2 linked regions of the Homo sapiens genome follow. The protein of the gene in region 2 interacts with the protein of the main gene of each other region in a pairwise test. Each region holds a gene or a part of one and is shown on either strand. Other genes may lie near its edges. The genes, in order: MAPK6 and SLC20A1.

The links.
Region 1: the proteins of SLC20A1 (region 2) and MAPK6 interact in a two-hybrid assay, tested with the Homo sapiens proteins (one large-scale study listed by BioGRID and IntAct).

Annotation. Positions count from the first base shown.
Region 1 is NC_000015.10:52,060,630-52,064,450, reverse strand, and holds part of MAPK6 (mitogen-activated protein kinase 6), read right to left. Parts: intron 3,153-3,821; coding exon 2,951-3,152; intron 550-2,950; coding exon 1-549. UniProt on the Homo sapiens protein: Atypical MAPK protein. Phosphorylates microtubule-associated protein 2 (MAP2) and MAPKAPK5.
Region 2 is NC_000002.12:112,659,422-112,663,242, forward strand, and holds part of SLC20A1 (sodium-dependent phosphate transporter 1), read left to right. Parts: coding exon 1-341; intron 342-965; coding exon 966-1,151; intron 1,152-1,720; coding exon 1,721-1,805; intron 1,806-3,442; coding exon 3,443-3,604; 3' UTR 3,605-3,821. UniProt on the Homo sapiens protein: Sodium-phosphate symporter which preferentially transports the monovalent form of phosphate with a stoichiometry of two sodium ions per phosphate ion. May play a role in extracellular matrix and cartilage calcification as well as in vascular calcification.

The sequences.
Region 1 (3,821 bases), on a different chromosome or scaffold from region 2:
GAACTAAGCTGAATAGTTCCTGCAATAAAGGAATCAAAATCAAATCCCTGATTCTTTTCCCTTTCTTTTCCAGCCAGTTGCTGTGATGCTTCCTCTAGCGCTATCTGGGCTTTAACCAATCCATTCCTTTCACATTTTGATTTGCCTTTCTTATCAGATTTTTCTTTGCTTTGTTCTTTCCAATTGGAAAGATCTATAATAAGCTTGGGTTCATAGTAATGGTTAACTTCACTCTCTCTCCAAACTAAGTTATCTAAATATGATGATGACCTCGTTTTGTAGTTACAAGTATGGCTACACTCCAGATCACAATATTTGTTTTCATGATGATCTGAGTATTGCCAACAAGGCTCAGTAGAGTAATTGGTATCAAAAGCAGGATCCTCCAGATACTTTTCCCGATCTCCATCCAAATATTTTCGGGGATCAACTTGTACTTCTTCTTCATCAGTGACATCGGACAGAGCTCTTGGATCAAGCTGAACTTCATCAATATCAAAGTTGTTATGTACAGGCCAATCATGCTCTGAAAACTGACAATCATGATACCTGAAAAAAATCAATACACTAGCGTTATTCTACGTATATGATTTCATTTTCAAATTCACCGAGTACCTTCTATGTGACAGCACTGTGCTAGGTCTATGAGGGGATAATTATAGGAGAGTAAATATGCCTGCCTTGCCCTACCAGAACTTAGTCTTGATAGGAAAGCTCTGTTAATATATTTGGTAATTGCCAATGCAGTATGTAACTTCATTTCCAATTTGTTTTTTGTCCACCAGTTCCATGCAAACAAAAGACTTCATAGCCACAAAATGCAGATCTCAAATCTCAATCAGGTACCTTACAAATGTTTACTCTACAGTAAGGGCAACTAGAAGAGGAGGAGGTTTGCTAAATGTTTACTCTACAGTAAGGGCAACTAGAAGAGGAGGAGGTTTGCTGGAAAACTCATCACCATGAATAGCAAAAATCTCCCTGTGTATACGTGCTGCTGAATGCGCTATCCTATTACTGACATGTATAATCATTGAGGGAAAAGAAAAGAGATTAGATAACTTAGCTAGGTAAAATAGAAAATGCAGGTCAGGTGCAGTGGCTCAGGCCTGCAATGCTAGCACTTCAAGAAGGCCAAGGTGGATGGATCACTTGAGGTCAGGAGTTTGAAACCAGCCTGGCCAACATGGTGAAACCCCCACTACTAAAAATACAAAAATTAGCTGAACATGGTGGCGGGTGCCTATAGTCCCAGCTAGTAGGGAGGCTGAGGCAGGAGAACTGCTTGAACTCAGGAGGTTGCAGTGAGCAGAGAGATGGGCACCATTGCACTCCAGCCTGGCAACAGAGTGAGACTCCGTCTCAAAAAAGAAAAGAACCATTATTTAGGGGGTAGAAATGGACACATGGAGAAAAAAAGTAGTTTGCAGATTTGTGTAAACATACCATACCAATACATCAACATTTGAGGAGGGGGAAAAAAATTTCTTCTTAAAATCTTAAGATTAAAAAGATTGGCATTAGTGGTTCCCAAACTTGGCCATACATCAAAATCACCTGATGACTCTATAAGCTACCATCCTACTCTGAAGCATCAAAATCACCTGATGACTCTATAAGCTACCATCCTACTCTGAAGCAGAATTATATCTAAACTTCCCCAGAAATGTATTTATTTATTTATTTGAAACGGAGTCTTGCTCTGTCGCCCAGGCTGGAGTGCAGTGGTGCAATCTCGGCTCACTGCAACTGCTGCCTCCCAGGTTCAAGTGATTCTCCTGCCTCAGCCTCCTGAGTAGCTGGGACTACAAGAGCCCGCCATCAAGCCTGGCTTATGTTTGTATTTTTAGTAGAGACCGGGTTTCACCACGTTAGCCAGGCTGGTCTCGAACTCCTGACCACAGGTAATTGGCCTGCCTCAGCCTCGCAAAGTGCTGGGATTACAGGCATGAGCCACCGCGCCCAGCCAAACTTTCCTAGAAATCCAATTATTTCACTTTATGAAACATCAAAATATGGATAACATTATACACTAATGTTTAGACCTAAAAAAGTCTCTTTTACTGAACCTATGTTAAGTGTCCCCAAATTAATTGTGTCATTAGGAAAACAGATTCAAATACTGGCTGAGTACGGTGGTTCACGCCTATAATTTCAGCACTGTGGGAGGCCAAGGCAGGCAGATCACCTGAGGTCAGGAGTTCGAGACCAGCCTGGCCAACATAAAATCCCACCTCTACTAAAAATTAGCTGGGTACCTGTAATCCCAGCTACTCGGGAGGCTGAGGCAGGACAGTGAGCTGAGCTTGCATCACTGCACTCCAGCCTGCACTCTAGCCTGGGTGACAGAGTGAGATTCCATCTCAAAAAAAAAAAAAAAAAATCCTGCATCTAATATGAATCAAATACTTTTTATGTTAAGATATAACTACCACTGAGACACTGGAGATACTTTATTGGATATGACTGAGTCTTGTCATCTAACATCTTAAATTTTTGACATTCATAAAATCACAGTTAAAGGACTTTATAAATATGCCTTAATGACTTTGAAAATGTTTCAAAGTAGCATTTAACTTTTCCCATATATCATCTAACCAGTAATTACTTTATTAAATGTTTTAATTAACGGCTATTTATAGATATAAATATTAAGGACCATTACTAAATTTTTCTTTGAGATGGAGTCTTGCTCTATTGCCCAGACTGGAATGCAGTGGCATAATCTCGGCAGCCTCGGCCACTTGGGTTCAAGTGATTTTCCTGCCTCAGCCTCCAAGTAGCTAGGACTACAGGCGCCTGCCACCACACCTGACTAATTTTTGTATCTTTACATTACTAAATTTTTAAGACTTCTACAATGTCTTATACATAATTTTAAAAAAACTCACTACATATGGTCCACTGAAAGTTCAGTAAATATTATTTTTCTAATTTAGGATCAATTTACCTTTCCCAGTTATAAATGTGACTGTGAGTTTCATCCATAAGCAAAATATCATCAACTTCATCTTCAATATGAAAAGGATGGCTTGAAATTGGCTCATCCATTGGAAAAGAATATATGCTCATGTAAGGATGGGAGAGTGCTTCTTCTGCTGTTAACCGATCCATGGGGCTAAATGTCAAAATTTGTTCCAGGAAATCCAGTGCTGCAGAGGAAAAGGTAAAAGTTTTTCAGAAAAGAATTGCTTACCTTTAGAAAAACAGTAAATGTTGATCTCATTTATTTCAATGACTAGCTAAGTGATTACCTTAGCACTACATACTACACAACAGGAAATGAGCATCTTAATTGTACTAATAGGTCCCCATCTTATAAAAGGGAAAAATGGACTACACAATTAAAAAGTTAATTTGTCAGAAATAAAACTTACCTGATTTACAACTTAAAAACGATTTTCTGGCTGAGTGTGGTGGCTCACGCCTGTAATCCCGGCCTAATATATAGGTTTTAATCCTAGCTCTGCAAGTCACTGGCTTAACTCAATTACTAGCACTGTAGTGCTGGATAGGCTACTAAAACTTGATGAACATCAGTTTCTTCATGCATAAAGTAGACATAGATATTTCATAAGGTACAAAAATGAGATGTAATCATAGTGTCTGGTATGTAATAAAAGCCCTTTCCCATCCTTCACTGATGGGAAGTACAACAGTAAAACATCTCTGTTGTACTAATTTCTTGATCTCTGCTTCACATCACACTCCAGCATAGTTCACACACTGACCTTGCACATCTTAGGACTCTGGTTAACCACAAATCCAGTTCTTCCCATAAAATAGTCTAGTAGGCCTTCCTTAGTTCCTCACGCAGCCTG
Region 2 (3,821 bases):
ATGGCAATATGTGGCATGCCTCTGGATTCATTCCGTGCCAAAGAAGGTGAACAGAAGGGCGAAGAAATGGAGAAGCTGACATGGCCTAATGCAGACTCCAAGAAGCGAATTCGAATGGACAGTTACACCAGTTACTGCAATGCTGTGTCTGACCTTCACTCAGCATCTGAGATAGACATGAGTGTCAAGGCAGAGATGGGTCTAGGTGACAGAAAAGGAAGTAATGGCTCTCTAGAAGAATGGTATGACCAGGATAAGCCTGAAGTCTCTCTCCTCTTCCAGTTCCTGCAGATCCTTACAGCCTGCTTTGGGTCATTCGCCCATGGTGGCAATGACGTAAGGTCAGTTGACATTGATCTTAGTGTTGCTAACCCTATTTTTAAACCATTTATCCTTGTCACAGGCCTGTGCTTGTGGTAGTGGTACTCCTAGCATTTACAGGACCCCAAATAATACAAATAGGATGAGGTAATAGCAGTTATTGACATAATAAGACAGTACAGTTTTATTCTTCAGAGGAATTACAAAGAATGTTTATTTTTGTAGATGATAAATATAAACAGATACTCTTCACAGAGAAGGCTTTTGTCCATCAAGATGAGATTCAGTTCTTTGGTAGTGAATTGTGGGATGTAAGATGTAAGATGAAAAACTTAAAAGTTTTTCATATAGAATGATTTTGTAGTTTGGTTTGTAAACTGTTTATTGGAACCTGAGAGTTGCTTTAAGCTGCCTATAGGAGGAAAGAGGCCACCATTTGCCTGGCATTCCCTCCATCAGAGCTGTGTTCATTTTTCTGTTGTGTATGTTGGGGTTCCATTTATGTCTTTAGAAAGAAAGGCCCTTTTGCCAGATGAGCTTGAAAGCTGTACTTTAGACAACCTGGTAGATCATTCAGCAGATTGGGTCTTGCCAAGATCTAGTTCTGCCTGAAAAGTCACTTCTGCCCTCTTTGTTTCTTCCAGCAATGCCATTGGGCCTCTGGTTGCTTTATATTTGGTTTATGACACAGGAGATGTTTCTTCAAAAGTGGCAACACCAATATGGCTTCTACTCTATGGTGGTGTTGGTATCTGTGTTGGTCTGTGGGTTTGGGGAAGAAGAGTTATCCAGACCATGGGGAAGGATCTGACACCGATCACACCCTCTAGGTAAGTAGGTGGAGCAGGTTCTACAAATGTCAGTACTCATTTTTTTCAGAGATATAACACTGTCGAGTGCTAACACAAATCTCTAAAGTAACCAAGTTTGTATAAGTTCATGATGTTCTTATTGTCATTGTTCTTTTTAGATTTTACTTGTCTGGCCCTTAAACATTTTGGTCAGACATTTTACCCATTTAGCTCTGGTGGTCTCTGAAGAAAATGACTTTTCTGAGAAAGCTGTGTATGCTAAGAGCGGATAGTTATGTATACTTGCCTTTTATTTGTCTTGGGAGCTAAGACTCAATGTTTACCAAACTCTTCAAAATAAAAGTGCAAATTTTATTTAATAGTGGGATTCCAGAAAAACGTAAAACTGGAAGCCTTTGAATAAGGAAACTGGGCATCTGTGGCCTGATTTAAATAAAGTAGATCTTAGGGGTTATAGCAAATAAAGATGTCAGTGGAGGTTTTGTGACTGAGTAGAACAAAGCAGGACTGTGTTAACTTGAGGTGTAGTGTTAGCTTCTCAAAAAAGTCAAACTCACTTCCTGACAAGAATCCTTTTGTGTCTGTAGTGGCTTCAGTATTGAACTGGCATCTGCCCTCACTGTGGTGATTGCATCAAATATTGGCCTTCCCATCAGTACAACACATTGTAAAGTAAGTGTAATGCCAATGTGTGTCTTTCAAATGGTTCTTCTAATATGTAGGGTTTTTAGTTTTACTTCTCTGATACTTTGATTTAGAAAGTTTTGTGCAGTTGGAGTCTTGAAGAGTTCATAAGTTATTTCTTGTGTTTATTCTTATTTAAGCAATTAAATAGATATTCTCCCCAAATAATAGAAACATTGTTTTATATACAGCTTACTGTAGTTTCTGGCTACTAACCTCTTCCTTTGTTACTTTATCCTCCCTCATTGTAGTCTCTTTATAATAATTTTTTTTTTAATCTCAAGAGTCATTTCTACTTGGCACCATTATGTTTTATTTATTTATGTATGAGTTGGAGTCTTGCTGTGTCACCTGGGCTGGAGTTCAGTGGCACAATCTCGGCTCATTGCAACCTCCGCCTCCTGGGCTCAAGTGATTCTTGTGCTTCAGCCTCTCAAGTAGCTGGGATTATAGGCACCCGCCACCATGCCTGGCTAATTTTTGTATTTTTAGTAGACACAGGATTTCACCATGTTGGCCAAGCTGGTCATGAACTCCTAACCTCAGGTGATCCACCTGGCTCGGCCTCCCAAAGTGCTAGGATTACATGCGTGAGCCACCGCGCCCGGCCGACAGCATTATGTTCTTTGCCTTTGGGGAAGCCATTCAGAGCAGGGTAGGTGTATGCTTAGAAACTGGCAGGTGCTTTAATTCTGGCCAGGTGGGTTTCTGCTGCCATTTGTGGTGGCTGAAGGCCTGGTTCTAACAAGTCTGTGAGGCTTGCCAAAATGTTGGCAAAGCAGTTTATTTACAGAAGGCATATTTCAGGGCCTCTCAGGATTGAAATACTGAGAAACAAAACAAATCTTAAGGTTGTTTGATGACAATCTAATAATTATAGGAGAAGGAAGAAACTGGTTTCCTTAAGAGCATTTAAGCTGGTCCATCATGGATCCTGCTGAGTCATCTGTTTGCTACCCGGATGTGTCTCCAGACAATTGTTTATTAGGTTTAATATCAGCCACTCTGTAAATAATCTTAGGAAGACTTACAATGCAATTTGTTATTAAAAGCAGTGTATAGGCCAGGTGCAGTGGCTCATGCCTGTAATCCCAGCACTTTGGGAGGCCAAGGCAGGTGGATCACAAGGTCAGGAGTTTGAGACCAGCCTGGCCAACATAGTGAAACCCCATCTCTACTAAAAATACAAAAAATTAGCTAGGCGTGGTGGTGGGTGCCTGTAATCCCAGCACTTGGGAGGCTGAGGCAGGAGAATCACATGAAACCAGGAGGTGGAGGTTGCAGTGAGCCAAGATTGCGCCACTGTACTCCAGCCTGGGCGACAGTGCGAGACTCCGTCTCAAAAAATAAATAAATAAAAGCAGTATATATTCATTAAATTTTAGCAGTAGCTGAGAAGGGGAAAAGAAATAGTTCTTGTGTCCTTTTACTACCGTTAGTATAGATTATGATTGGATTTTCAAATTGCCTTCATTTTCCCAGCTTAACCTGTTGTAAACCAGCTTTCTTGGACTTTGTCTTGTCCAGGGGTCTGGGGCTCCTTGTCCAAACAGTCTCAGGTGTCTGTTTGCCAGAATACCACTGGCACTTCAATAACCTGTTTCCTTGGTCTGCTTCTCTTCTAGGTGGGCTCTGTTGTGTCTGTTGGCTGGCTCCGGTCCAAGAAGGCTGTTGACTGGCGTCTCTTTCGTAACATTTTTATGGCCTGGTTTGTCACAGTCCCCATTTCTGGAGTTATCAGTGCTGCCATCATGGCAATCTTCAGATATGTCATCCTCAGAATGTGAAGCTGTTTGAGATTAAAATTTGTGTCAATGTTTGGGACCATCTTAGGTATTCCTGCTCCCCTGAAGAATGATTACAGTGTTAACAGAAGACTGACAAGAGTCTTTTTATTTGGGAGCCAGAGGAGGGAAGTGTTACTTGTGCTATAACTGCTTTTGTGCTAAATATGAATTGTCTCAAAATTAGCTGTGTAAAATAGCCCGGGTTCCACTGGCTCCT